Linked DNA regions of Homo sapiens. The protein of the gene in region 3 interacts with the protein of the main gene of each other region in a pairwise test. Each region holds a gene or a part of one and is shown on either strand. Other genes may lie near its edges.

Region 1 (7,988 bases), on a different chromosome or scaffold from region 3:
TTCTATGACCTTTAGTGAGGTTTAGTGACCTTCACTGTGAGGTTAAGAACCGTCACAATGAAGTCTAGTTCATTTTCATCTATAAACCTACATGTACTATAACACCACCTTGTAGTCCAAGTATTCATAGTACACTACTCCCTGAAAAAAAAAAAAAAAAAAAAAAAAATGATTTTAAGACTGTTCCAAAGGCATACAAGCAATTAAAAGACAATCACACCCAACATAAAAGCTCACAGATATGTAAAGATTCCATTTATATGAATATCCAGAATAGGTAAATCCACAGACACCAAAAGCAGACTGGCAGTTATCAAGGGTTAGCGGGTAGGGGTAGGGGGCAGTAACTGCTTAATGGGTACATAGTTTCCTTTTGGGATGATGAAAATGTTCTGGAACAACACAGAGGTAGTGGTTACACAATGTGAATGCACTAAATGCCAAATGAGTTGTTCACTTGCAAAACGGTGAATTTTTATGTTAAATCAATTTGATCTCTAAGGAAACTAATAACAAAACCCTTTTGTATCTCCTGTTTAAATTTTTTTAACTGACAATCATACTGTATGTTGCCCCTCAATTTGGAGCAGAAAAATCAGAGGAATAAAATGGGACAACACAGACAGAAGATAGCCCGGTATGTTTTCATCCCCTCATCCTCAGGATGGGAGGAAACTAGAACTAAGACTTGCTAAGTGCCTACTAAGTCTGGAGGTCAGAAGGATTCATCTGCTGGGATATTCTTTTTTGCCAGAACAAAGCTAAAATTGAAAACTCAGGATTTCAGCTGGGCACAGCAAATTATGCCTATAATCCCAACACTTTAGGAGGCTGAGGTGGGAGAATCGCTTGAGCCCAGGAGTTCAAGACCATCCTGGGCAACATAGGTAGACCCCCATCTTTACAAATAATAATTTAAAACAATAGCAGGGCATAGTGGTACATGCTAATGGGGAGTCCCAGCTACTGGGGAGGCTGAGATGGCAGGTCACTTGAACCCAGGAGGTTGAGGCTGCAGTGAGCCATGATTGCATCACTGCCCTCTAGCCTGGGTGACAGAGTGAGATCCCATCTTGGGGCGGGGGGGGGGGGGGAATGATATATATAATTTAATTTTAAAACTCACGATTTCTTGGAAATCAATTCCTAGGACTCACAGGTTCATACACCTAAACTTTCCATATTCTTGGGCTGTACCCAGAGGGATAAATAAAAGAAATTGGTACTGAGGGAAAACATACAGCTAAGGTATAGTTAAAGCTTAGCTATTGTTCCACACAAAGTTTAAACTTAGTAATCATTCAAAATTTCCCTCATAAGACCAAATGTCAAAGCAAGCAGCCCATCCAAATAATTTAATAAAAATCAAACATCTAATCTACTCAAAAAAAAAATACTGAAGACTCAAGTCACTGCTTTTGTGAATTACATCACAATTAACTCACAAGGTCAAGAACTGAAGAAAAACTCTGCTCTCCTATGTCTCTGTCCTTTAACAGCATTTCCTGAGGAAAATGTCACAATACATATGAACCATAACTTGAAGTATGGAATCAGCTGGCTACATGTAATCAGTTCCATAAAGTTTGCAAACATTTACTACATGACATTCATGTTAAATTAACACCAGTATTTTCAAGGTCAATATGTTTGTTCAACTTCTTGGAGTCACACATTTTTGTGGTATTTTTAACATCTGACTAAAGCTTCTATCATCACAAGATGCTCACACTGTTTACAAATACTTGGAAACAGCAGCTGGTGTTCCTCAGTTACATCTTGTTACAATAAACAGAGTAGCAGTTTTAAAGTCCAGGTATATATTTTACTGCTGATGTGTAAAAACTTTGCTTTAACTTAAACGTTTCCACTGCCCCCAGTAATGGAGAGACATGAACACAATTAATTGTGGGCAATTTAGTACAAAGTTACGACAAGATCACAAATACACAAATTTTTATGTATGCATACTTGAAAGTACAGCTATCGTGCTGAATGAATCAAATGCTAGTGACTTTGCGCATATATATATACACACACACACACACACTCACATTTTTGCATGTGCGTGGAGACACAGTCTCACTATGTTACCCAAGCTGGAGTGCAAGTGCTATTCACAGACCGATCATGGCATACTACAGCCTCAAACTCCTGGTTTCAAGCAAGTGGCTAAGACCACAAACGTGTGTCAGCGCACCCAGCTCTTTTCATATCATTTTTACTACCTTTTCCCATCCCACGCAAAAAATGCAGAATACAGAAACTTACCCACACAAGCATTGAGGAAGAGCCAATCAGTCTTTTTCATCCTGTTTTTAATTTGCTTTAGTTTTTTAAAGTCTACTTCAAGTTCCTCCTTGCTTCCCACAGCACCAGCCAATTCAATCCTCTGAAAATCCATTTTCACTTCAGAGTCCCGCTTCGTAGCAGGAGGTGATCTCCTTTGGCTATTACCACTACTGCAACTTCCCCTCCATCGAGCTCTGTCTTGCTCATTTATTATTGAAGAAGCCTCTTCAGTCTCTGCCAATTCTATTGCTTCAATGTTATTAGGTCTGGGATGATCACAAACAACACATCTTTTAGCCTTGGCCCAGTTTTCATATGTGCAAACAGAGCAAGTCCAGTGCTGTGTCCTAGTGTTCAGTTTATTTCTATCATTGTATTCCTCACAAGGATCAACAGAAAAAGCAACTGGTCTTGAGCCAGATCCTGAGGACTGAGGAGATTCTGTAGGACTCCTGGTCCTACGTTGGGATAAGCACTGGGTACATCTGATTGCTCTTGGCCAGTTCAAATATGTACACATGTGGCATGACCACTTATTTGCATTTTCCATGCTATACGAAGATTTCACCCTTGGTCTTGCACTAGAGTCTGGACATATCAAAGGACTACTTCCTCCTTCGGTGCTGGAAGGATCCCAATCTCTACCAACATCACTTGAACCACTTTTAAATGGATCTTCTGTAATAATTGTTCCACTAGGTCTTTGGGCACGACACATAGTACACTTGATTGCAGATGGCCAGTTTTCATACGTACAATATTCACAAGCCCACTTAATTCCACGTTCTGACATTGTGCACTTCTTGAAGTGAGCTGTGTCAGGCAGGAAGCTATAAATAATTAGGACATGGTTATTAAAATAACTACATTCCACCTCCAAAAATACGCTGCCCAAAAAGCAAGTCCTTCAACCTACAAAATATAAATTTCTCAAAAGATGCATGCAACATTTCGACATTGAATTATCCTAATTTTCTTTTTTAATTTCCATAGAAACACTGGAGATAAATTCTCAAAGAAAAAATCTTAGACCCTGGGATTTAATAAAACTGAACTTTGGAATGCAAAAGAGATAGGCAGGAGATATAACGAGGTTTGATCTAAGAAGGATGAGATTAACGGGAAGCCACTAATAGAAATGTTTAATTTCAGGGAGGCCATCACATCAATTTAGAAAAGTAACCAATAGTTTAAAGAGACAAAGGTAGAGGAAACAACACAAACTAAAAAATAGCTTAAACACATAACCATTCTCAAATTATGAACACAGATTATGATTCATGAATTCAGAAGATCAAGCAACGTCTATTTTATCATTCTCGCTAAGGGAGAAAAGCAACTTAAAATGCTAATTATCCACTGTTCTTAATTAGCACAGGTAGTAAAGAAACATGTTGAGAAGTAATGGCTACAATTAACAAAGTAACATTATGAAATAGGTAGTTCCTTGATAATCTGTAGCCTCAAAATCTAGTTCTATCTGGAGTAAAAAAAAGAAGACTGTACTGGGGAAAATTAAATCTGTGGAAGGTCACTGAAATAACCAGTAGCATAATCATTCCAATATAATTGTGAATGTTCATAATTAAAATATTTTAAATTTTGAATATTTAAAATATACTCAAAATCTAATTCATGGCCGGGGGCAGTAGCTCAAGCCTATAATCCCAGCATTTTGGGAGGCTGAGGCGGGTAGATCACAAGGTCAGGAGTTCAAGACCAGCCTGGCCAAGATGGTAAAGCCCCGTCTCTATAAAAATACAAAAATTAGCCGTGCATGGTGGTAGGTGCCTGTAATCCCAGCTACTCAGGAGGCTGAGGCAGAGAACTGCTTGAACCCGGCAGGCAGAGGTTGCAGTGAGCTAAGATCGCACCACTGCACTCTAGCCTGGGTGACAGAGTGAGACTCCATCCCCTGCCCCCCAAAAAATCCAATTCATATTTAAAAGATATTCACACTACTTAAAAGATTTCTAGGATTCAACAATGGGCTAACACTACACTATAATGAAGAAAGACTTCATAATTTAATGGCAACTAATTCATAAATGAAGCAACTTACATAACAAATTTAATTTTTTTTTTTTTAATGGCTTGAATTTAGACACTGGCCACTTTTCCTAAATACTTTTATCAACTCAGTATCATCCCAACACCTATTTTTCACCCGGAAAGAGAAAGAAATCCTAGGCAGAGTATAGAAGCTTTGCTCTCTCTTTCTCAGGGATTTTTCCTGAACCTAGAGGGTTAAATCTTTTGTTTGTTTGTTTTTTTGTTGTTGTTGTTTTCATTTTTGTTTTTTTGAGATGGAGTCTTGCTATGTTTTGCCCAGGCTGGAATGCAGTGGAGTGGTGCAATCTAAGCTCACTGCAACCTCCACCTCCCAGGTTCAAGCGATTCTCCTGCCTCAGCCTCCCAAGTAGCCGAGATTACAGGTGCATGCCACCATGCCCGGCTAATTTTTGTATTTTTAGTAGAGATAGGGTTTCAGCATCTTGGCCGGGCTTCTCTTGATGAACTCCTGACCTCGTGATCCACCCACCTCGACCTCCCAAAGTGCTAGGATTACAGGCATGAACCACCACGCCTGGCCTAAATCTTTCACTTTTGAAGTATACTGTATTATGTTCCTGCCTGCCAAGTCCATACACCATTTATAGTGTGAACTCTGCTAAGAAGAAAAAAAAATCACTATAAGAAAGTATACTACTTAATAGCTAAAATAAAAACCACACTTACTAAGATTTTAGTTCCCACGCTATAACCTCCACCTTGCACATGATTAGAATAAAAGTACGGTTTGCAAATCAGATCAAAGACAAGATTCCGTCTTCATGCTGGCTCAGAATTCTGACTTCCTCAGGAGATACTGCAAAACGTGATAAGTGGTTCTGTCTGACTGAATAGCTATTCCTGTAAAGGAGACCAAAACTGAATTTCACTTGAAGCCTGCTACTTTAGCTAAAAGATTTTTAAGGCTTTATTTTTATCAATTCTCTATTTTAACCCTACTCACTTATTTTAACAATGGACAACTATATTTAGAATTTTAATTTAACAAAACAATAAAATTGGCTAATCAACTGGGCTGGTCAGCCAAATTAAACATGGATGAGACATTTTTCTATATAACCTTAACCCTGTGCTGTGTACACAGTTCTAATATTACTATTAATTTGGCAGTGCTAAGTTAATTCCTACCTGTATTACTCTATTACTAAAAGGGAAAAGATGATAAAATCCAAAAAAGTAGAAAAAGCAAAATAATTGCTTATATTTAGCTATGAAACCACCTTCAGCAACTGCATTTTTTTCCCTGATCCAAGTAATATAAAATTATCTTGTTTAAATTTTTAAATTTAGTTTGTATAATGATTACTTACAAACTGATAGCAGCCCAAAAATGTGTGGAAGAGCAGAGAACTATAATGATATAACCATCCAGAAAGTAGACAATACAGATTTAATGGCAATTTTCATACTCTTTAGGCAGATTCTTTTAGTTTCTCGGGAATGAAATATAAGTTACTTGCTCATGCTACTGGAAATTAAAATGAGCATGTAGAAACTTATTAACAAGATAAATGCCATAATGAACATATATCCAGGGCTACTCTAAGTAATTTCAATATATCTTTTAAAATATTCACATTCAAAATCCATACTTGTTTTGATAAGTCTTACTATGTTTGTAGGTGCAACTAAACAGCCCGTAACCTTATGTTATCTTAGCTAATCTTCATGTAACTAATATGCTGGCACAATATATTTAAATGTCCAGGCTGATTTAAAAAACAAACAAAAAACTGTCATAAAAAATAATCACTGTCATAAATGCCTGGTAAAATAATGGACAGACAGCTGCCTAATTAGCCCACCAACCTCTGAAAATCCAGGTAACTAAGCAATACCAAAACCAAGCTCAAGAGTTTTGAGATGTGCCTTATATTAGATAATAAGCACAGTGGCTCAAGTCTTTAATCCCAGCACTTTGGGAGAATGAGGTGGGAGGATCACTTGAGTCCAGGATTCAAGACCAACCTGGGCAACACAGCAAGACTCCATCACTACAAAAAAGGAAAAAAAAAAAAAAACACGATTTTTGTTGTTGTTGAGACAGTCTCACTTTGTCACCCAAGCTGGAGTGCAGTGGCACAATCTTGGCTCACTGCAGCCTTCACTCCCAGGTTCAAGTGAATCTCCTGCCTCAGCCTCCAGAGTAGCTGGGACCACAGGCGCATCCCACCATGCCCAGCCAATTTTTTTATTTTTAGTAGAGACGGAGTTTCACTGTGTTGGCCAGGCTGGTCTCAAACTCCTGGCCTCAAGTGATCCACCTGCCTCAGCGTCCCAAAGAGCTGGCATTACAGGCGCGAGCCACTATGCCCGACCAAAAAAAAAACTTTTTTTTAATTAGCCAGGTGCAGTCGCCTGTGCCTATAGTCCCAGCTACTCAGGAGGCCAAGGAAGGAGTATCATTTGAGTACAGGAGTTCAAGACTACAGTGAGTTATGATTGTGCTACTGTGCTTCAGCCTGGGATGACAGAGCAAGGCTGTCTCAAGGAAAAAAAAAAAAAAACGTAATGATGTACAGTGTTCACTCTGAGAGAACTTGAAACATTGCAGGAATGTTGTTTAGTAACTGCAAGGTAAAATTCATTGAAGAGTGGCTAGGTGCTCACGCCTGTAATCCCAGCACAGGAGGCCTAGGTAGGTGGATTGCTTGAATCCAAGAGTTCGAGACCAGCCTGGGCAACATGGCAAAACCACATCTCTTCAAAAAATACAAAAATTAGCCCAGGGTGGTGGCACATGCCTGTAGTCCCAGCTACTCAGGAGGCTGAGGCAGGAGGATCGCTTCAGCCCAGGGGACTTGAGGCTGCAGTGAGCCATGATCACACCATTGCACTCAGAGTGAGACTTTGTCTCAAAAAAAAAAAAGAAAAGAAAAAATTCATTGAAGATTATCTGAGACAGCCATTTCTACCTGTGGTAATTAGTAAACAGCACTGAACAGTAAGGATAACATCAACTGAACTATGTGTTTTTTTGCAGTATTACAAAGAAATTAACAGAGTACACTTTTTCCAGATGTCAAAACATTCCAAAAAGTACATAAAATTATTTCCAAAGTAGCCAGCTCTAAAAGTTAATACTCTACCTTGAAATAAAACTTACCAAATATCACTTTAAGTATTAAATATATTCATACGCCCAAGTAAATTTAGTTTACAAGTTTAATTTTGCATGCAAAGCAGATTTGCAAATTCTATCCAAGGACTCAAACTTCAATTAATTGGTAAAATAAAACCACAATAAAATCAACATAATCTAGGCCTTCTTTAAGGAGAACGGGACAAAACTGCTACTCTTAAGACAAATATTCCTTGGTTCAAATGCAATACCAACAGTTCCCATCCTGTGGACCAAGGAGACCAGGAATCCATTTGTGCATCAAGCTCTGCCTGTAGAATGAATAATGTCTCTAAATATATCAACCATTTACTACTACTAAATTGACAAGTACTAAATTCGTAACTGTTTTTAATTATATACTTTCCAATTCAGATAATAAAAGTGCAGAAATATGGTATATGTACTAATAGCAGGCGGGGGAAAGGGACTTACATAATGGAACATTTTTTATACTGTCATGTTTAATATTTGTGAAGCATTACTAAACACTGTACAAGAA
Region 2 (7,681 bases), on a different chromosome or scaffold from region 3:
AAAAGTTACAGATAGAGAATCAAAAGCAAACAGGCCAGGCAGATGATTACATTACCTCTGCAGACTGAGAAAACCATTATGCACACTCCGTATGCACCTGTGGAGTACTGTCAGGCTTCAGGGGGGTGGCGCGGGATACACATCACCAATAAAACAACGAGGACCTGCCTTGCCTACATCCATCTCTGAAGCTTTCTTACTAGCTTATAAGCTTTGGAGTAGTTCACCTCCATTCTGACTCAAACCCAAATCCATGTTCTCATTTGTCAAATGGAGATTAAAATAGCTGCCGTGCTTAAAAGAGTTGTGAAAATTAAGTGAAAAGAAAAATGGACAAAATATTTAAACAAGTAGTACTTTGAAAAAGAGAACATTCATTTAGCAAATAAATATATTTAAACGTGCCCAAAATCAAGAGTTATCAAGTAAATGCACATTAAAACTACAATGAAGGCCGGGCACAGTGGCTTATGCCTGTAACTCCAGCACTGCGGGAGGTCAAGGCGGGCGGATTACATAAGGCCAGGAGTTGCAGACCAGCCTGGCCAACACAGCGAAACTCTGTCTCTACTGAAAATACAAAAACTAGCCAGGCATGGTGGTGCACATCTGTAGTCCCAGATTGAACCTGGGAGGTGGAGGGTGCAGTGAGCCCAGATCACGCCACTGCATTCCAGGCTGGGGGGCAGAGCAAGGCTCTGTCTCAAAAACAACAACAACAACGACAAAGCCCACAATGACATACCCACTAGAATAGCTAAAAATTTTAAGACTACATCATCATGTAGTGACAAATTTCTGACATAAAACTGGAGTAATATGACAAAATGAAAAATCAAGGCAGGGGAAGAAGAGGAGTGGTCAGATTCAGAGACAAAAAACAACCAAGGAGGAAAAAAATAACAAGAGATAAAGAAATGATATATCCTTAAGTTTTATTTTGATATCTGGGTGATAGATGGTTAGAACTGATAGTTGTCAAGTAACCAGAGTTTGATATCCTACCCTACATACATATATACACAGCCTATTCTTAACACCTATAAGCAGGTGGCCACTTCAGAATGTCAATAATTTTCAGGGGACAATGGCCATTCCCAGATATCTGCCACAATGACCTTCTTAGGTTCAATCTCTCCATTAAATATAAAGGTTTATTCATTATCAGGTAACTTAAGAGAACCTAATAAGGTATTAATGTTTGAAAAAAAAAAAGTTCTTCCCCTTCAACCCTCCACCTCAAGGACTTAGTACTGCTGGGGACAAACCAAAACACTGCACATGCTAGATTTCTTTAAGCAGATCTTTTTTTAGAAGAGAAGGTTAAGATAATTCATCCCATGACAAATGAAAGTAAAAGCTGCTGCTCCAGATAAGAATAAAAAAAACTTTTAGTACAAATGAGAAGTAAAATTCTGAGTCACTACAATTCTCATATTGCAAATGAAAATAAGCAAGTGCTTACTAAGGGTACGTTTACCGACCAAGAAAATAGTTTGCGAGTTTTCAGATACAATAACAATTTCACTGAATAACAGATTTTTCATCCAACTGCTATCATTTAAAAATTACACTAAATATGAGGGAGACTGTACATAATAAAATTTTTTAAATCCTTCATCATTTCCCTTCATGCTTTTTTTAAATATGAGATTAAACACAGTTCTGAGCTTGCATTAAAAGTCAGTAAGAACTGGAACTACTTCACAAGACACTTCATTTTCAACATTTCTTAACTGGAGGAAACTAAAGAAAGGCCTCCCTGAATGCAACAGAGATCGCCATAACAGGTCTCCATGGTGAAGAACTGTAAATGTTCCACAAGGTGCTATAGGGACAGAGAGGTGCTTGTCCTTTAAGCATAGCAGCCACAGACCCATTAAGAAAATAACGCTAAAGGAAGTCTAAAAGCTGGGAGCAACACTTACTACACCAAAAAAGATAGCAGATGCCAATAAGTCAATGTGAAACTTAATCCTAAAAAACAAAGGATGAGGGAAAAGAATGTTTCAACAATACCAAAATGCCTCAGGAACTAATATCCTTCTCACCCATGGTGTTGGACAAATATTGCCAATTAGCTGATATTTTTATAACAGGAAAAAGACTGTAAGCAAAAACACTTTTAAAGACTTTGTAACTTAGGCCAGGCATGGTGGCTCACTCCTATAATCCCAGCACTTTGGGAGGCCGAGGCAGGTGAATCACTTGAGGTCAGGAGTCCAAGACCAGCCTGGACAACATGGTGAAACCTCATTTCTAGAAAAAAATAAATAAATAAATAATTAAAAATTAGCCAGGCATGGTGGTGGGTGCCTGTAATCCCAGCTACTCAGGAGGCTGAGGTAGGAGAATTGCTTGAACCCAGGAGACAGAGGCTGCAGTGAGCTGAGATTGTACCACTGCACTTCAGCCTGGGCGACTGAGTGAGGCTGTGTCTCAAAAAAGAAGAAAAAATAAAATAAAATAAAAGCTTTTTAACTTAAGACAAAATGAAAAATCAAGGAAGGGGGAGAAGAAAAGTGGTCAGATTAAAGGACAATAGACAACCAAGGAGGAAAAAAATAACAAGAGATAAAGAAATGATATATCCTTAAGTTTCATTTTGATACCTGGGTAATAGGTGGTTAGAACCATCACTTGTCAAGTAACCAGAGTTTGATATCCTACCCTACATACTTATATACAAGGCCTATTTTTTTTTTCTTTTGAGATGGAGTCTCGCTCTGTCGTCCGGGCTGGAGTGCAGTGGCGCGATCTTGGCTCACTGCAACCTCTGCCTCCCGGGTTCAAGTGATTCTCCTGCCTCAGCCTCCCGAGTAGCTGGGACTACAGGCATGCACCACATGTCCGGCTAATTTTTGTATTTTTAGTAAAGATGGGGTGTCACCATGTTGGTCAGGCTGGTCTCGAACTCCTGACCTTGTAATCCGCCCACCTCGACCTCCCAAAGTGCTGGGATTATAGGCATGAGCCACCGCGCCCAGCCACAAGGCCTATTACACGCAACACCTCTGAGGTCCTTTATTTAAACAAAAGCCATGCTAGAGACACATCCACCTAACTACACTGCTATAGTATTATGTTGTATATTCACTGGCAGAAAATCATTCTCTTCTTGACTTACTTACAAATTATACATAAGCTTATCATTAAATGTTATTAAGGAATAAAAATATATTTTAAACCATCAATATCAGCTGATGTGAAACAAAAATAAAATTATAATGTCTTTTCTCTTACATCCTAAAAACCTACAAGAAATTCCCTTGTATAATGATTTTAACCAATCTGTCATATAATCCATTTGAAATGCCCAAAATAGCTAAGACAATTATAAAACAGTGGGGAAAAAACAGACAATTCAATCCACAGTGATTAGACAATTGATTATTGTCTATTGTCAACTGGTTATCCAATTCAATTCCTCCGCAGACCTTATACAAAAATTAATTCCTGGTGGATCAAAGACCTAAATGTGAAAATCAAAAGTTTAGTAAAACTTGCAGAAGAAAATATGAAAATATCTGTATAACCTCAGGGTGGAGAAGGGTTTCTTTTCTTTACTACAGGTGTGAGCCACCACACTCAGCCCTGAAGCCTTTCTTAAGAAAAATAAAATTAAGGGAGAATGACAAATATCACTAAGTGAAAACCCACATTTTCTTTACAATAAAAGACAGCAGAAACAAACAGAACTAGAATACAGATTTGTAACATACATACCCAACTAAAGATTAGTAAGAAATGTATCTGGAACTCTAAAAATCAATTTTGTTTTATTTTTTGGTGTTGGTTTTTGGTTTCGTTTTTTTGTTTTGTTCGGGAGACAGGATCTGGCTCTGTCACCCAGGCTGGAGTGCAGTGATGCAATCATGGCTCACTGCAGCCTCAACCTCCCTAGCTCAAGCCATCCTCCCACCTCCATCTCCCGAGTAGCTCGGACTACAGGTGCGCGCCACCATGCTCAGCTAATTTTTGTATTTTTTGTAGAGATGGGGTTTCATCATGTTGCCCTGACTGATCTCGAACTCCTGAGATCAAGCAATCCACCAAGTGTTTGGATTGCAGGTGTGAGTCACTGCACCCTGCCATCAATTTTTAAAAAGTAACCCAACAGAATAATAAAAGTAATGAGCAGGCAATTTATAGAAAAAGAAAACAGAATGATGAAGAAACATATGAAAAAATGCTCATCTTCACTGGCAATGAAGTAGAAATAGAAAATGAAATGAAAACAATGTCTTACTTCATATTCATCAGATAGGCATAAATTAGAAAATCTGACAATGCTCAGCATTAGTGAGGATGTGGAACAACAGGAATTTCACTGCTGACAGGAGGGAAATCAACAAACACTTGGAAGGGCAACTTTGCAAGAGCTACACTTTTTTTTTTTTTTTGAGATGGAGTCTCACTCTGTTGCCCCAGCTGGAGTGCAGTGGCACAATCTCCGCCTCCCAGGTTCAAGTGATTCTTCTACCTCAGCCTCCCGAGTAGCTGAGATGACAGGCATTCACCACCACACTCAGCTAAGTTTTGTATTTTCAGTAGAGACACGTTTCATCATGTTGGCCAGGCTGGTCTCAAACTCCTGACCTCAGAAGATTTGTCCACCTCAGCCTCCCAAAGTGCTGGGATTACAGGCATGAGCCACCACACCAGGCCAAGAGCTACACTTCTACTGAAGAATTCCCCTTCAAGACGACAACCTTTAAGAATTTTGCACTCCACTGGGCACAGTGGCTCATATCTGTAATCCCAGCACTTTGGGAGGCCAAGACGGGCGGATCACGAGGTCAGGAGTTCGAGACCAGCCTGGCCAACATGTGAAACCCCGTCTCTACTAAAAATACAAAAAAAAATTACCTGGGCATGGTAGCAGGCGTCTGTAATCCCAGCTACTTGGGAGGCTGAGGCAGGAAAATCATTTGAACCTGGGAGATGGAGGTTGCAGCGAGCTGAGATCGCGCCACTGCACTCCAGCCTGGGTGACAGGGCAAGACTCCGTCTCAAAAAAAAAAAAAAAAGAATCTTGCACCCATAAACACAAGAAAACATAGATAAAAACTTTCAATACAGAGCTGTCTGTAGGTGCAAGAAATTGAAAACAAAGTCATGTTCGTCAATAGGACAACAGATAATGCATATTCATATAGTAGTATAGTATCACGCAGCCATTAAAATTTATAACCTAGAGCTACAAACATCAACATGAATAACTCTCACGAAGAAATGCTGAATGGGCCAGGCACGGTGGCTCACGCCTGTAATCCCAGCACTTTGGGAGGCCAAGGCAGGCAGATCACCTAAGGTCAGGAGTTCGAAACTGGCATGGCCAACATGGCGAAATCCCATCTCTGCTAAAAAATGCAAAATTAGCCGAGCATGGTGGTGCGCACCTGTAACCCCAGCTACTCGGGAGGCTGAGGCACAAGAATTGCTTGAACCTGGGAAGCAGAGGTTGCAGTGAGCTGAGATTACACCACTGCACTCCAGCCTGGGCGACAGAGCAAGACTCCGTCTCAAAAAAGAAGAAATGCTGGATGACAAAAGTTGCAGAATGACAAAAAGACACCATTTTTAAGAAGTTTAAAAACATCCAAACAATATATAGTATATTTGTAAGTGTAGTATTATACTATTAAAGAGAATTTCTATCTATTTATAGAGTGTTTAACTCGGAGAAAGGAGGAAGAATGGGATCAGGTAGCTGCTAAAAATACTAAAGTATTTCACTGCATCTTGAATGTTCCTTTCTTAAAAAAAAAGAATCAAGTATATCAAAATATTAGCACTTGACATAATTGCCTGGCAGGAATGGGAGTTCATATTTTCTATTTTATGCTGAAAATATTTCATAGTTTAAAAAGCTACAAAATATATTAGAAAAAAAACTGGCTGTTAAGTCTACTATTCTTATTCAAAACCAAAAAACTTTTTAAAAAAATTTTTACTTTTACAAAGATTTTAACTTATTGTACAAAGAGTGGCCTAGTTAAGTAAATGTTATAAATTTGTGTGTATGTTATGAATTTATATTATTCTTATGCTATCAATATCTATTTTTATATTGGGATTTCTTATAAAATTTCACTGGAGAAAAGGACTGCATGACTGCATTTCACTGGAGAAAGTCCCAAGCTACTTCCTGGTCAACTTCTTCTAACACAGCAAAAGTCAGAAACACAGCAATACACACATTAAAATGTCACTTGGAAATGTATTCTCTTAAAAGCTAACAATTCAAACCACTGCGTCCACAGAGTTTTGTAGAGGTAGAATTTGAGCTCAGCTTTGTGGGACACAAGCGTATCTTTAAAGGAAATACCAAGGTTGAAAAGAGCAAACATTTAGCAATGAATGGTAAATAGCACAGAGGCAGAAAACTGGCAAGAAAGATTGCCTGGCTTGAGTAAAGGGAAAAAAGATATGCAAACAAGAACCGGAGTTAAGGCTTAGAACAGACAAGTCATGACTTGGAAATCAATGAATAAGGAAATGACATCTTCTCTGTTAACACTAACCACTGTGGCCCCGTCCCCCATGTTTCACTTTCCCCTTGGAATTCTACAAGAATGGCTACTCCAACCAGGCTCTACCTCAAGATCCCTGTACCCCTCTAACACTTGAGGCCCAGCTGGGGAGAAGAGGTGGGACCTAAGGATATTTTCTTTTTTCCCCTCAGAACACATCAAAGAAATCTTATTAAACAAAACAAAAAAATGAATCTAGATAAAATGTTTAAAGAGTTCTAACACTACCAAATCTAGTATATCCTTCAGGGCTTGTAGGTTCTGATGCCAAGAAAAGACAGGAATTTGCCAGAGTTCCCTACTTCCTAGCCTTTGGCCTGCTTCCATTTGACAAGTCACATATCATCATCAATTCATGAGTGCCTTCCTAAGACATCTTGACCCATCCTTTTCTCAGCCCCTGAGAAAAGGATTCCTTCCTCATATGACTGTCAGAAAGACTGCTCACCCTCCTGCAAGACTCTTCACCTACCAAAAGAGATTAATCTTTAAAGGCCTTTAATCATAAAATGACCATATCATACATTAGCAAAAGGTGGTTACTTCCTGTTGGGAAAGTGCTATCAGAGAAGGGGGGGAGGAGGCTGGGCACAGTGGCTCACGCCTGTAATCTCAACACTTTGGGAGGCCGAGGCGGGCAGATCACTTGAGGGCAGGAGTTCAAGACCAGCCTGGCCAACATGGTGAAACCTCCATCTCTATTAAAAATACAAAAAATTAGCCAGGTGTGGTGGTGCGCACCTGTAGTCCTAGCTACTCGGGAGGCTGAGGCAGGAAAATCACTTGAACCCGGGAGGCGGGGTTGCAGTAAGCCAAGATCAGGCCACTTCATTCCAGCCTGAGAGACAGATTCGTCTCAAAAAAAAAAAAAAAGAAAAAGAAAAAAGAAAAGGTGGGAAGGAGAGGATAGTGTCAACACCTTTACAGAGAAAGCTCCTATCTGAAGGTCCTTGTCTTTTCTTCAGGGACTATGACTATTTTAAATAAAAGAGGATTAAAGCTTCTTGTATATTTGTAGCACTATACTTATCGTACTAAATTACAGGTCTTATGTCTCTCTGTTTCCTCCATTAGATTGAGAGTTCCTTGAAGGCAGGAACTCACAGTCTATTTACTCATTTTGTGTCCATAGATTAACACAATGC
Region 3 (7,699 bases):
TAAACAAGTGCCGGGCTGTCAATCAAGAACTAGACCGGAGCAGGAGAGGACCGGCCTAAACCGGCGCGAGCAGATCCCAGCCGGCCTGCCCGCGCGCCGCCGCCGCCGCCGCTGCCGCCCGCGCGCCCCGCTATACATACGGCATACGTCGCGCGGCGCTCGCGCCCGTGCCCGCGCAACCTAGCCTGCTGGCCGGGGGGCGGGGCGAGCGAGCCGCGGCGCTTCCGCTTTACACGCCCCAGCCGGCGACCGGTTCCATCTGGCTCGGGCCACTCTGACACCTTTAGTTTCGGCAAGGGATATTGGGGTGGCGAAGGGGAGGCGGGGGCCCGAAGGCTTCGGAAAACGATGGGGGAGGGGGCAGAGGATACCCGTCGAAGCCCCCCCCTCCCCCAACATTTCGATATTGGAATCACTTTCCTTCTTCCTCGGGCCAGCCTTTGCTCTGTCCCCTCAGGTCAACTCAAGGTAGACAGTGTGGCGACTGGAGAGGTCGGGGAACAAGCTTTGTTTCAGCTAAGGGGAAAACAAGCGTTCACAGGAGTCCCCTGACACCTCCCACTCGGAAGATAGCTAACGGGGGTCCTGCCAACCCTTCCCATCCAACTTCCATCTGAAAAGGATTTTCTGCTAAAGTTGGGTCCATGGCCATCCAGCACCTGTAAGGCCGGCAGGAGCGTCTGCCCTCTACTCAGTTAAAGCCTGAAGTCGTTTCCTTTCGATGGCCCTTAGGAGGCCCAAAAGAGGGGCGACAGAACATGATGTTGACACGGGCTGGGCGCCCCCAGAAGCCCGGGAACAAACGTGAGTACGGGCTGGGTGGGGGTCGCTCTGGAGGAACCTTTACCGGCGCACGCCGGTTTCCTAGCCTCGCCCCAGCCGCGGCGCGAGCTCACTCTCCCCACCCGCCCGCGCCCAATCCAATCAGCGCCTGCCATCGCCTTAGCAACAGGCTAACAAACCTGGCTCCGCCTATCCCGGGCGCCCGGGGCGGGGTCTCAGTTACCAGGCTAGTTTGAGAGCTCCCAGTTTCAAGTCATTGAAACTATTCCAGACTGAGCTCGTCTACGCGTTGCAGGGTTTGGGGGGCATTTTGTTGGGGGTGCAGGGCATTTAGTTTTCTTTACCACGAAATCATGGTGCAACTAATGAAATTATATTTGTCCTCACATCTCGTTGTTCTACTTTTCCCCACTGCAAGTCTTAACCCCTTGAGGAAAAATCTGTTTTCTTTCATCCGTTTCATAAAAGGCTGCAATATTCAGAAAGGTACAAACACAAAGTCATCTATCTGCTTTTCAACAAATACCAAGGCTGTCATTAGGCATTTGCATCTCCTATCAGTGTTAACACTTGGAGAGATTAATTAGTTATTTCAGGATGCAAAGTACCTGTATCTAACTACGAAAATCCTGCTAAAGAACTGAGTTCACCTTAATAGTTTCAAAAATAATGCATTAATACTGTCCCTCAAAGCATCCTTCATTTCTCACTTGCCTTAGTCATCAGCACTTCTCCAGGATGTACGTTTTTAATATAAAAAATAAGGTAAAATATGTCTCTAATTTTTTTTCTGAAAAATCGCCAACATCTGAACTAAATACTGCATTAAAAAGGAGAGGCACAAAAATTACATAACCAGTTTTAACATTATATTCTTCTTGGGCTAGGAATTAAGTCATCGCCACCACCTGACGCGTGTAACCAATCTGCTGAGAGCAGAACAAGCGCCCCTCCTCACCACCCCCCAGAACTGGTCCGAAACAGGATTGAACCGCTTCTAACAAAGGGTGGAAACTTAGAAAAACAAGCCTAGAGTCTCCTATATTTCCACAATGTAACCATTTAAACAATAGATTGGAAATCTCAGGACTCCTTCTCCTTTTGACAACCCTTTATCTCTCTCTTCTAACCAAAAATCAAATCCAGTGTGCCCTATACTTTTCAATTCCATTTGACTGGCATGGGTTTCATTGAATGCACGTTCCAAAGTTAGACATGATGCTCGGAAAAGAAAATTACTGATCCTAAATGGCTTCTAAACCTGACTCGATACCTATCATAATGACAGATAGTCATTCCTTTAAAATAAGGAATGCTGGGTGTAAATTTTTAAAGGAATGGTAAAGAATAGAGAAAAAACACGTGGGGTGTTGATACCATATGTCAAAATAAGCCACAGAAATCTTTTATGAAAGAACAGTCATCAATTATTTAAAGTCTTTTGCATTCCAATATTAAAAATGAAACACACCCATTAAGTCTCTTAAAAATGTTATTACATTTCTTGATCGAAGTTCAGTTTTTACATCTTAGGTTGCAAGTAAAAGGGCAAAAATCTAAGACTGCAGCTTTTACCAATTCATTTGAAAATATATTAGTAAAACGACTGAATTGGATTCAAACAGAATTTATAAGTAAGGTGCAAATGGACTACAAGTGCGTGTGGCACAGACCGAGCCGGGTACAGAGGTAGCTGAATAAGTGTAGTTTGCAGTCACTTTGCAGATGCCTGCATGCATTACGGCTTAACACACGATGAACGTCAAGGAGAATCCAAACCTTCCAACTTTGCTAACCTTTCTCAAACTGCTTAGTTATGCTAGGAGTAGAATCACGTTAATTCAGAAAACTGAAAAGGTACGTTTCCAAAGAAAATGAGTCCAATGACTTATGAATAACAAAAACTTACCTCTTTCGTGCCCAATTAAGATGTCTTTATGGTTGAAATACTCTACTTCTTCAGTGTAATTCTGTGTATAGGCAGTATTGGAGCCGGCGTTTCTAGATTCAGTCCAGCGTACTTTCGCATGTCCTCTTGCATGAATTTTAAGAGATTTTACTCTGATTTCCCCAGTAACTTCTAAATTTACCCTTCCTGAGACGGTATCCCCACTAGAATACACAGGGACATTGCTGTCATTAAGACAGTCAAAGCTTATTGTCAAACTCTTCACCTTTCCCAGCACCATGTTTATAACAAAATCTATAAAAATATAATGTAAGACAAAAAAGTCAAGATCGCATATAAAATGTGATCTTCACTTAACACTGATCGATATTTTTGCCGTGCAAAATGCTTGCAGGCCGGATCAGTGATTCTCTACAAATAGTTCATTGAGATTTCTTAAAAAGTCAGGGCAGCAGAGGCTGCTGCTCCGCGCTCCCGCTCGTCTCAGTGGTCTCCTTACAAAGACGGGCGGCTAAAAGCTGCCAGCTCACTTTAAGAGCAGCTTTGTGAAAAACAACCCCAGTGCGCAGGCGCAGGCCGCGGCTGCTGTCCGCCCTCCCTGCGCGCCCCCTCCCGCGCCGCGCCGCGCCGCGCTCGCTCCCTTGCCCGCTCGCTCCCGGGTACAGTAGGTGTAGAGCTAGGGGAAGGAGATACTGGAGCTGCTGGCCGGCTGAACCTGACTTCTCTTCATTGTGGGCTCCTATTGGTAGGCAGGCTACCGTATACCCTCGACGTGCTATCTGGAGCCCGTTACCGAGCGCACTCTACTAGAAAGATAATGGCAGAGTGGGGTGCGAGGGTACAAGGGCTGGGTGGGGAGTTTGCAAAGCCAAGTTAGGATAAACTGCAGCGACCAGCCCGAAGCGTGCGTTACCGGCACTGCAGCGTTTTACCAACTGCCTGGATGGGAGGAGGAAAAAGTGATGTGTGAAGAGAGATGGGGGAAGGGAGAAACCGGTTGGGCAAGCGGCCGATTGTTGAGCATAATCTAACGAATTTCCAAAGAAAACGTAATAAAACCGGACAAGAAATATTGTTCATAGACAAGAGCATACTTTGCTTGGATTTTTTTTTTTTAAACCAGTACTTTGTAGGCAGGTTGGAAATGAACTCAGTCGAGGTCAAAGGAACCTTAATCCTTTGAAGAGCGAGGTAGAGAAGCAAGTACAATGTAATCAATAGGCTTTGCTGTCTCCTCAACTTCTTTCTCCTACATTGCTTAATTAGCACCGAAAAACAACCAAGTTGTTTCCAGGATGACACGGGTGGGGGCTGGGGGAAGCTTGATCACTTCCTCGAAGGAAGAAAAAGTCCTTTTAAGACACCACCTACGGCTAGATTTGCAGAGTAAGACATGATTACAACTCCTGTGTCCAGAGGAATAAGAATAGAGTTCGGCCTAAAAAAGTACTACCTTATAAAAGGCATATGACATAGTGGTTTAGCTGACATATTGTTTGCAACAGAATCGGAAAATCTTTGTTAGAAATTAGTGAAGCGCATAAAATTGTTTTTAAAAAGCATGATTTGGTATATAAATAGGGATTTAACTGTGTGAAGCTTTAATTTTCGGCCGAGAGCCTTGGACCATTTAACGTAGTAATTCTCATGATACATCTTAAATATAGGTACATTTCTCTTTTTATTGTGAATGTTTGGTAAAAAATAGCAGTGCTTTCGTCACATCACACTGGGATTCAGAGCATAACAGCATAAACTCATCTAGATTACTGGCAATCAACAGAACTGCCTTACAAGAGAAATGTAGAAAGAAAAAATATGAATCTGGTGCTCTCTCTATATATATATGTATGACCAAAAATACCTTGGAAGATTTTTGGCTGTCCGTGTCTAAACGTTTTAGATTCTTTTGCGTAGTGTATATGGATAGGTTGAGCCTATGAGTCACAATAAACTAAACTTATTGGTCTTGCTGTTTTATTTCAAAAGAAACTAAGCTTTTGGGGGTTGGATTTTAGTTGACAAGGCAATATCTTGGACTCAACAGCAATATATAAAGAGTATAAATATGCAAACTAGACAATTAATGAGCAGGCCATTTATTTCAGAGTTTAGATCGCTATGCATAAAATTATAAATTTGCATATTTAAGTGGGAAAAACAGTCTTATCTTTTCCCTACCTCTTGGTTGACACCTGGTGGAAATTCTAGGTAAAGTACCTGGGGCCTTGTACTAGCTTTGATTACAGATACTACTTGTGTTTTTTCTCCACCTAGTGGTAGAAGTGGTGAATTTCCTAGAATGACAGCTTTTCCTCAGCATAAGGTCAATGATATTTAATAAGCATTCGAAAACCACTGAGCAAGGAATGGATTTAAAAGTGTAGTCCATAATGAATACATAAATTCATTGCACATTTGTGTCTACATTTATGTTAAAAATTATTAAGGGTTAGTGAACAGCTGAATTCGGATTTTTTTAGTAAAATTTATTTAATTAGAATATAACTCATTTCAGAAAAAATAAGAATTAGCTATATAAATACACCAGAATTGCATTTAATAAAAAAGAAGTCTAAGAAATTTATTTGTAGTTTGGAAAATTGTTTTAAAATATTAAATGTTTCATTCCTGTCACTGTGTAGTACATTATTCTTTGTGTTTGAAGCTTTCAGGATCTTTTGAATAGTTGTCTTTATTATTTATTTTGCTATTTTTAAAATTTTCTTTTTACTGTGTCTTCTTAAATACTTAGGTAACTGGCAAATTTCCAAGAAATTCTTACCAGCTGCCATTTTCATTATATTTTTATTTTTTGAGATGGAGTCTCACTCTGTTGCCCAGGCTGGAGTGCAGTGGCACAATCTAGGCTCTCTGCGGCCTCTGCCTCCCGGGTTCAGGCGATTCTCCTGCCTTAGCCTCCGGAGCAGCTGGGATTACAGGCACGCACCACCACCTCTGGCTACTTTTTGTATTTTTAGTAGAGACAGGGTTTCACCATGTTGGCCAGGCTGGTCTTGAACTCCTAGCCTCAAGAGATCCACCCGCCTTGGCCTCCCAAAGTGCTGGGACTATAGACATGAGCCGCTTGCGCCTGGTCTCGCTTTATCTTTTCAATTCTTAAAAACAAAAACAAAAACAAAAACGCTTGGACCAAATTTTGAATGTTTTCTCTTGTCGCTTTCATAACTTCCCCCTTTCAGATTTTTTGTCTAAATAGCTACTCCTTAGACAGCTTGAAATGCTGTACTGTAGACATTATCTTGGGCTTCTCAGCTTGCTTCACTGGGCCATTATTGTATTTTGTATTATATTTAAACTATTCGTCTTTACCATCAAGGCTCTTTCCTACTTCTCCCCAGCCTACGTCTCATATGCCATCTCCTCCTACTCATCTGCTAACTCTCTATAATCCTGTCAAGTACATCTTCTGTCCCCTTTGTTAGCTTGTCTCACTGTTGCCAGTATGCAGTTACATGTGCTTTTGGTGCCCAGAATAACATCCCACTACTATGTTATCTCCTTTGCTTTTTTCTAATCCCTCCACTAGATGCAGTTGGCACTACTGAGTAAAATTCCAACTAGACTGAATAACTAGCTTCCCTTCCCCTTTCATTGCTTCTTCAGAGCTTAAGTAGGAATCTCTTTTTATATTAGCTTTTGAGTCAAATGGCTCTTTCACCTTAATATATTAAAGTTTGAACTCAATCTCAAGAACTCTATCAAAGACTGATAAATGATCATTGCTGTCAAGTTGTATGATATTGAGGAGATATGTTAAGATTACTGCCAAGTTTGGAGTTTTTTGCATATTATATCAACATGCTCAATATTTTTATTTTTAAAAAAAAAGGAAGCCATCTCAACTGGAAGTTTTGGTGTTTGGTTGAAAAAAAAAAAAACCTACCAGTAGTCAGAATCTGTTTCATAAAGAAAAATATGAAATCTATGCTTAATCTATTTTAACTAGCAGCTGATAGGCTCGAGTGCTATGGGACTAAGGGGGATTTTTTTCCTTTGGTCTTAATTCTGTATTTCAAGATTTTGTAACTCTGACTTAACTCTTTAATATCGTCACAGTGCAGCAAATTTGGCATGCAGACTGGACAGAAGACTTGCTGTATTATTAGCAAAATGAGTAGTATTTGTTTTTTAGCTTTGAGAGCTATTACAAACATAACGCATATTATGTTTGTTATGTTCTTCATACTTAATAGACTTTTAAATATGTTATGGATTTTGTGATGAAACTCACTATCAAATTTGGATTCTGATATCCTTCATTAATAAATAGTATAATTTGTGTTATGTGAACACCATTTAATCTGTTATATTTTATTTCTTGATTAAAAGAAAATCACCCATAATTCTACTGTCCGTCCATTCAGAGACACCACTGTTAACATTTTGGTGTATTTCCATCCAGATGTACAACTAAAGAAGAGCATTGCCAGTGAAGCTATGGCAGTGCATATTATCATGTAGAAGATGAGTTGGTAAAGTTTATTCATCTAAGCTCAAATGGCATCTGGTCTACAGAAAGAATTAGGAATGCTAAATTTCTTTTCTGAACTACTTTATAAATTTTGACTTTTGACTATGCACAACTTTATATAATGAGGGTAAAATTTTATTTGCTGTAATAAAATATTTTCTGGCTGAGTGTGGTAGCTCATGCCTGTAATCCCAGAACTTGAGAGGCTAAGGTGGGAGGATTGCTTGAGTCCAGTGGTTTGAGACCAGTCTGGGCAACATAGCAAGACCCTGTCTCTACAAAAAATACAAAAATTAGCCAGGTGTGGTGGCATGTGCCTCTAGTCCCAGCTATTCAGGAAGCTGAGGTAGAAGGATCACTTGAGCCTGGAAGGTTGAGTCTGCAGTTAGCTGAGCTCGTGCCATTGCACTCCAGTCTAGGTGACAGAGTGCGACCCTGTCTCAAAAAAATTTTTTTTAAATTTTTTTTCAAACATTTGATTATTTTATTTTGAGACAGCTCTGTTGCGCAGC
Region 4 (7,579 bases), on a different chromosome or scaffold from region 3:
AAACTAGGGATAATTAGAACCTATCTAACTTTCTATTACATTAGAACATGAAAAGTATTGTTGGTCTTTGTTTGCTTGTAACTCCATAGAATTGTTTTGTTTTAGTCCCTTTCAATTTTGGACTCTCAGCTTTGATAGTTAACAGAAATGAAAGCCTTGCATTTGCTGTGACATTGACACTGATGAACTCCAATGTGATTCTTAAAACCCATTAAGACCCAGAGAAAAAAATTCCTTTAGAATACTTTGGTGTCCCGTTTTGAAAACCTGGCCATATATTTTATTAAAAGCTAAGGTCCCAATAATTCCATTTCCGAGAATGTAATCTAAGGAAGTAATCATATATATGGAAAAAACTATATGCACCATGATGCCTTCTAAATTATTTGTAATTGGAAAAAGCTGGAAGTAACGTAAGTGTCCAAGCGTAGAATGTCTGTGCAAAATGGCACACGATCCAGATGGATTGTTATACAATCATTAAATAGTATTGTTAATGCACTGTGGAATCTTTCTGTGACAAATGAAAGCACTGTGTGTGTGTATGTGTATGTGTGTGTGTGTGAGTGTGTGTGTGTGTGTTTGTGTGTTTATGGAGGTGATCCTGGATAGGTGATATGAAATTCTGACTTGTCCAGCTTCTCTTGATACTATTGGGAAGTTGGCAGACACACAGGCACTTACTAGCATAAGCTGACTTCCATAACTTTATTCTAATATTTTGTATTTTGGAATCAAAGGAGTCAGAAGATGCATGCATCAGTTTCTGGGTGTCCATTTGTGCTGCCAGAAGAAAATACCACAGTCTGGGTAACTTATAGACAATAGAAATTTATTTCTCACAGGTATGGAGGCTGGTAAGTCCAAGATCAAGGCACTGGCAGATTCCGTGTCTGGTGAGGACTGCTCTCTGCTTCCAAGATGGTGTGTTGTTGCTGAGTCCTCCAGAGGGAACGAAGACTGTGTCCTCATGTGGCGGAAGGGATGGAAGGAAACAAAACCACTCCCTCAAGCCCTTTTAGAAGGACCGTGACCCCATCTATAAGAGCTGTGCCCTCACGACTTAATCACATCCTAAAGTTCCCACCTCTTGTTAAGTTTCAACACATGAATTTTGGGGAAGACAGGGATAAGGAAAGAACATGGTGATTAATGCTGTCCCCCTGGACTGATTTTCAAGCTTTCTATGGCAAGAGTTTATAGGCAAAAACAAAATCCGTCCATTGCATGTTTGATAGTGCCATGAACCTCTCTTTTGTTGCACTCATCACAGTTGTACATTAATCTATATAATTACTTAATGCTCATCTTCCCTTCTGATCTACAAGCTCCATCAGGGCAGGAACTGTCTTTGTTTTGCACATTACTTGACATATAGTCCTAATAGTTGAAGGAAGGAAGGACAGGAAGAGTGGAAAGGAAAGAAAGGTAAGGGGAAAGAGAAAAAAAAGGGGGTGGGGAAGAGAAAAGAGAAAGAGTGAAAGGGGAAGAGAGAGGAAGCAAATTTTTGCACAGGACGCTGTGGTCCGGGTGATAGTACACTAGCAAACCAGGAAAGCACACTCCCATTTCCACTTGGAACACAGCAAGGCCAAGAGACTGAAATGGACAGGAAGGCAGGGCTGCCCTAGCACTTGGCAGGTTTGCATCTTGGGGCTATATCGGGGATGGCGTCCTAGGCAAGGTAGGACTTTCCAGCAGGGCCAGCCGCAGTGCACGTGACAGAGCAGCGGTGAGGAGGGCAGATGCTGGTAGAAGTCTGTCGGGGGGAGCAGCAACATATGCAAGCATGGACTTGTATCTGTATTCTGAATATCTGAACCTGGGGATACCCAGAAATACACAGAAGGAATGGAGAAATGCCCCCTTTAAGGTCTCAATGCAGGTAGGGAGTATAAAGTCAGTATCATGGGTGTTAATGTAAATACTTGTTTACAGCCTCAGATAGTTGTTCTTAAGGATGTCTAAAAACAGACTAAAAACCAAAAAAAAATTACTGAAATGGTAAAAAATGTAATGGTTGTGGTTTTCCCTCTTATGTTCATACTTTCATAATATGTACATAACAGACAGAAGTGTTTCTCATTTGAATAATTGCTACTTTCTTTTATCGGATGCTAAGAAGTTTGAAATCCATTGTTTTTGGGTTTTTTTCCAGAAACAGTTCTAGCCTTCTCTATGTTGTCTATCCCTGTTGACACATCAGTCTTTACCATGTAATTTTGTTTTTAAAGGCATACCTCCCTCTATTATATACATGGTCTTATGTGTATGAATTCTTTTTTCAACTAGACCAGTAATCCTCAACATGAGGTCGAAAAAGAAAGACGAGAGTAGAGGATGAAAGGACGGCCTGGCATACTAGGCCATCTAAAGTGCATCCAGCAGCTCACCTGCACCCCCACAAACCATAAGCATCACTGCCATTCTGAGCTGATGTTGATGGGAGATGTTATAACTTTGAGGGGAGTGAGGAGGTAGAAAGAGTTAATAACTCTGAATTACTGTAAGTTTGGTGAGAAACTGTATTTTCACTAAAAGGTGAATTTTAGAACCAGAAGTTTATCAGTTTCAATTTTGGATCTATTACTTACTCTAAGTTCCTTAATCTTTGTCAGATGGATATGAACATACATTTCTTTCAATGTATGAATATTAAACATATGCTAAGTGCTAACAGATAGTGCTCAATAAATGCTCTTTAGACCTTACTTTTCAGGTAGACTTGGGAGTTCCTTTACATTACAGGTTTCTCAGTCTTGGCACAACTGACATGTTAGACTGGATAATTCTTTACTGTGGAGTGTTGTAGTCTAAAGCGTGCCCCTTAACCCCTACCACTAAATATGTTGGAAGTCTTAACTGCCGGTATCTCAGAATGTGACAGTATTTAGAGATAGGGCCCTCTATCTAAAAAAGAGGTAACTGAAGTAAAATGAGGCCATACGCATGGGCCCTGATCCAATGACTGCTGTCCCTACAAGAAATCGGGACACCAGTCCTGCACAGTCATGTGCACACAGAGAAAAGACCATGCAAGGACACCATGAGTGGAAGCCAAGGAGAGAGGCCGAAGAAGAAACCCTACTGATCTTGGACTTCCAGCCTCCAGAATTCTGAGAATACACATTTCTGTTGTGTAAGCTTCCCCGTCTGCAGTATCTTGTGACGGCAGCCCTGGCAAACTAATCCATGAGGGTTGGGTGTTTAGCCTCATCCCTGGCCTCCACCCATTGATACTGGTAGTACCCCTCACCACCCTCCACCTCCAAAAGTGTCTCCACACATTGCCAGCTGTCTCCTGGGGGGCAAAATCTTTCTGCCCACCCCACTGGGAACCATTGTTCTAGATGATCTTTGGCCACCTTTGTATTCCCAGTGTCAGCACAGTGACAGACATAGATAACCAAATATTTGCTGAATGAACTCATGTGCCTACTTTCCCAATCTTGGGTCTCACCGCTCCCTCACAAACTCCTTTTGCTGCAATTAAAGTAATAATTACTTCCAGTTTAATTTATAGACTATATAATTTGTCATGAAACAAACAGTTTTCATTTTGACATAATTTCTGACAACTCAGTGACATAAATATATCCATGTGAGCTCCTATTTTGTTTGACATGCTCACTTACCTCACATCAGTTCTGCCGATAGATTTGGTAAGTGGTGCTTTTAGTTTCCTTAATGCACCCCTCAGGATTTCATGCAAATGAAATTATTATGACAAATTTTTCTATAGCCATTTCTAACACAGGGAACTCATAAAGAAATCAAATGTCTGCACTTCACTGTGAAAACACTAAACTCTCAGCCATAATGAGACTCCACACATTATCAGAAACCCCAAGGCATACCAAAAAGACAAGGTCAACGGAGACAGTCTTTGGAAGGGGAGGTCATAAATGTTGAATCTGGCAAATCATAAATTTCTTGTCTTAACATTGCCGCATTTACTATCATCTCATTTGAAAGCTGATGTGTTTGGGTTGGGTGATGGCAGAGGGGTGGGAGTTGGGGGATGCTGGCTCTGAAATGCCAGAGAGGCATTAAGAACTCTGGAAGCATCTGGCTACTGGTAGACATTTTACACAGATAGCAATTTCTGACCAATCCATTTCAATGATTTCTAACCCATACTCAACTATCCAGAGGATACTGTTTTAAGAACATTATTGTAAACTGATACTCTCTATTCATTTACAAAATTCATTCATTGCATACTTTTTGTTTAATAGCTTGGATTCAGTGTTACAGATTTGATTGACCCAAGTGAAAAAATACTGACACTAATCATTTTTAAGTGCTATTTCAGAAGAATATGCGCAATGTTTCTAAGTTATTGTGACTTTGTGACTGTCGTAGCTTTAAATTATAATACTAATATCCTACTCTGAGAAATGTGTAAGACACAGGTCTAACAAACAACTACATTAACCTCGGGCAACAACCATCATGGAGCTGCTGTAACACAGGCATGGTGGTGGCGTGCATCGGTACTTACACACACCAAGGATGTGAACTGACATCCCGCCTTTCCAAAAACAAACATTTAACTCAACTGTTTCTTGCAATAAAGAAGTTGAAAGAATCCTTTTGTGAGGCTGGATTCTCCATGGAAGAGAAGGAGAATGGCCTAAGGACATTCTGAAATTTAATTATCAAACCAAACCAAACCAAACCAAATCCCTGTGCCAAAGTGCCAAAGAGTCTACCTCCTCTGCAAAGCTGGTACCTGTGTGAAATGTCAGTATTTTTAGAGAGAGATGTTTTAGAGGCAGGAGGCAACTGACCAAGTAAGGATATTTTGTAACATTTTTCCCCTCTGGAAAAGCAGAAAAGAATGAATATCAGCTAACCGTAATATTTAGAATTTAGCATCTTTCCTTGGGCATTTATAAATAGAAAATCTATCTGTGGCAACCAAAAGTACGGTATTCTAATCAATGCATTTGAAAAGTCAGCAAAAGCCCACATTAATTCCTATTACGCTTGTTTCTTGGTTCAATCTCAGCACTTTCAGCGGCTCTTGTGCGGCGATTCTGTCTTGGACTTATTTCTGTGTCTTGAAGATCGTTTCTGAAGACAGAAAAAGGAAATGACATCTTGGAAAGTAATGATTATTGTACAGCAGTTTCTAGTTTACAAGTGTTTTCACACATATTATTTCATTAAAACCTCGAAATAATCCTCTATTCTGTTGATGAATTCATAATTGTTATTATTAGTATTTCCACTTTATGAATTAGTGAGTTAGCAAAGATCACAGATAGTAAATGAGCTCTGAACCCCTTTTTCTGAATTAAAATTTAGGAGTTTTATGCTTCTGTTTAGCATGTAGAGGGCTGGGAAAAAACGGCAAACAAAAAGCTGCTCCCATCCTAACAAGAAAAAGCCAGACAGTCTAACAAAATCTTAACTCTGTTTGATCCTTCAGAGACCTGAGGTTTTAAAGGAACTAAGAAAGTAAAATTCCAAAGAAAAATATGCCCCTCCAAAGATGGGCCACACTTCTCTCACTTTTGGCAGAGTGTTGGAGAACGAGGTGGCTGCCATACAAACAGGTAAGAAGAATCAGCTAAGATTTTCCTAATTTCTTAAATACAGGCTAGTATTGCAGGCCCCTGACACAAGGAGAGTCTGCACACACTTGCCAGCTCTTTTCCACGAGCCTCCGTCAGGTGCTCACAAGAAAGACTGGGAGCAGGACAGGTGAATGGAGAGGGGCCACTTCAGTGGCTACGGGGGACAGGAAGAAGTCAAGTCCTGCCTGCTCTCCTGAATGCTTCTCTCCCATGAAGCATAAGCTTTTCAGTTGCTGAGGGAAACACAGGAAACTCCCCCTGGGGCTCTAGCAAAGACCTATGGCCTCTGGGGAAGGAACAGAGGTGAAATCAGTCTGCCTCAAGGGGAGGCATATGACCTCATTTGCAGGAACGCAGGCAAAGATTCACTGCTGCAGGGGGAATGGTAGAAACTAAAACCTCTACCTTACAGGAGGGGCAGTAAATCATCTCCAGCTGATGACCTTACACTGACACCACGCAGAGGTTTGGTCAAGTAGCCAGATACCATGGGAGGAGGTGGAAGTGCTGAGAAAGGCCCACCCCTGAGACTCAGGCACACAGGGCCTACCTAAGACTCAGGCTAGACTGAGATAACAGTGAACCCCGGCTGTTTCCCACCATCAGCCTAGCAACAAGCAATAAGCAGGAGCAGGAAATGGCTGAGGGAGAGACACAGACATGGTGAAGATATGCCCCTATTTGGTGCAGGAAAGCAAGCATGGCTGAAAGGAAAATGGGAGCAAAATCAATGAGAAAAACCCTCTGGCAATCCAGCCCCAACACTAAGCAGAAGTCAAAGCAGCCACCTGCTAGAGTAACTTGAAGTGGATGCACTGAAGGTCACATTAGTCACTAGGAAACTCCAATCCAGGTCAACTCTGAATTACCCAGCTCAACTCCCCACACTAATGACCCAGTAGAAGGATGTGCATTTCTAGGCACAAACACTATCGACCTCAGTCCCTATGGTCCTTCACTGCATGGCCCGCATTCAAAAAGTATGATACACAATGAAGCAAGGGAAAAACCCATTTCGAGATGGAAATTCCTTCAATAGGCTTTAAGTGCAATACACAAAGTTGATAAAAAGACTTAGTGAACTTGAAGGTATGTCAATAAAAACCAGATTAAGATACAAAGAGAAAAAGGAGTATGTGAGGGGGTGCACATAGAATAGAGCAGCCAAGAGCTGTGGGACAATAAAAATGGCATAACATGTGTATAACTGTAATACCTGGAAGAAAGGAGAGAAAGAACTATGGATAATAAATATGTAAATATATATGGCTGTGGATTTTCTAAAAACGTTGAAACACTTCAAATCAAGATCAAAGTTGGTCAAAGAACCCCAGTCATGAGAAATACCAAAAATAAACAACCAACAAACAAGATCTCTCCAGGATTTGTTGTTGTTGCTGTTTGCTATTATTGTTTAGTGACTTTTCTAAACCAATCCTATAAATATGTATTCTTTGTTGTATATGGCAACTAAAAGTGTCTGCTTGATTAGCTTTGTAGTCCACTAATGATTGAACAGTTCCTTAGACATCTGGAACCAATATCATACAGAAACTCAGCAAAACCAGTCTTTGCTGGTGGGTTCTGTGTCTGTGCTGGGGCATGCAATCAACATTCACTCAACACTCAGTGGACAACTCTGCCTTAGCCTTTACTTCCTGCTTGCACACAGCCTCATGGTTAACCAGAGGTGAAAGTTTAGCGCTTCCTTAGGTCTTTCCTAAGCATGCACGGAAGCTCTATGAATGAGAGTGACCCTCTAGATTCCCAGGAATATTTTATAGCTGTTCAAAACCCCCATGGAAATCTTATTCTTCAGCTTTTACCATTAGGCTTTTTGGTTAGCATATCATTTACCCCAACTGTTATCTACCACCTCAGACAGCTGCAAAGCTAGTCAAATGCCTCTAATTGCTTTCAACAAACACCCTTAGATAAAAGGCTTTTTGAATTCAGCAAGCTCCAAGTCAGGTAAAGTAAAGATAGTCTTGCAA

What was found.
Region 1: the proteins of ARRDC3 (region 3) and ZRANB1 interact in binary tests that used the Homo sapiens proteins (3 or more experiments, as listed by UniProt).
Region 2: the proteins of ARRDC3 (region 3) and STAM2 interact in binary tests that used the Homo sapiens proteins (3 or more experiments, as listed by UniProt).
Region 4: the proteins of ARRDC3 (region 3) and RAD18 interact in binary tests that used the Homo sapiens proteins (3 or more experiments, as listed by UniProt).

Annotation. Positions count from the first base shown.
Region 1 is NC_000010.11:124,937,591-124,945,578, reverse strand, and holds the start of ZRANB1 (ubiquitin thioesterase ZRANB1), read right to left. Parts: upstream 3,457-7,988; 5' UTR 3,123-3,456; coding exon of another isoform or gene 3,086-3,122; coding exon 2,272-3,085; intron 1-2,271. UniProt on the Homo sapiens protein: Ubiquitin thioesterase, which specifically hydrolyzes 'Lys-29'-linked and 'Lys-33'-linked diubiquitin. Also cleaves 'Lys-63'-linked chains, but with 40-fold less efficiency compared to 'Lys-29'-linked ones.
Region 2 is NC_000002.12:152,165,469-152,173,149, forward strand, and holds part of STAM2 (signal transducing adapter molecule 2), read right to left. Parts: intron 1-7,681.
Region 3 is NC_000005.10:91,380,121-91,387,819, forward strand, and holds the start of ARRDC3 (arrestin domain-containing protein 3), read right to left. Parts: upstream 3,198-7,699; 5' UTR 2,973-3,197; coding exon 2,693-2,972; intron 805-2,692; exon of another isoform or gene 227-804; intron 1-226. UniProt on the Homo sapiens protein: Adapter protein that plays a role in regulating cell-surface expression of adrenergic receptors and probably also other G protein-coupled receptors.
Region 4 is NC_000003.12:8,876,381-8,883,959, forward strand, and holds the end of RAD18 (E3 ubiquitin-protein ligase RAD18), read right to left. Parts: intron 5,080-7,579; coding exon 4,977-5,079; 3' UTR 695-4,976; downstream 1-694. UniProt on the Homo sapiens protein: E3 ubiquitin-protein ligase involved in postreplication repair of UV-damaged DNA. Postreplication repair functions in gap-filling of a daughter strand on replication of damaged DNA.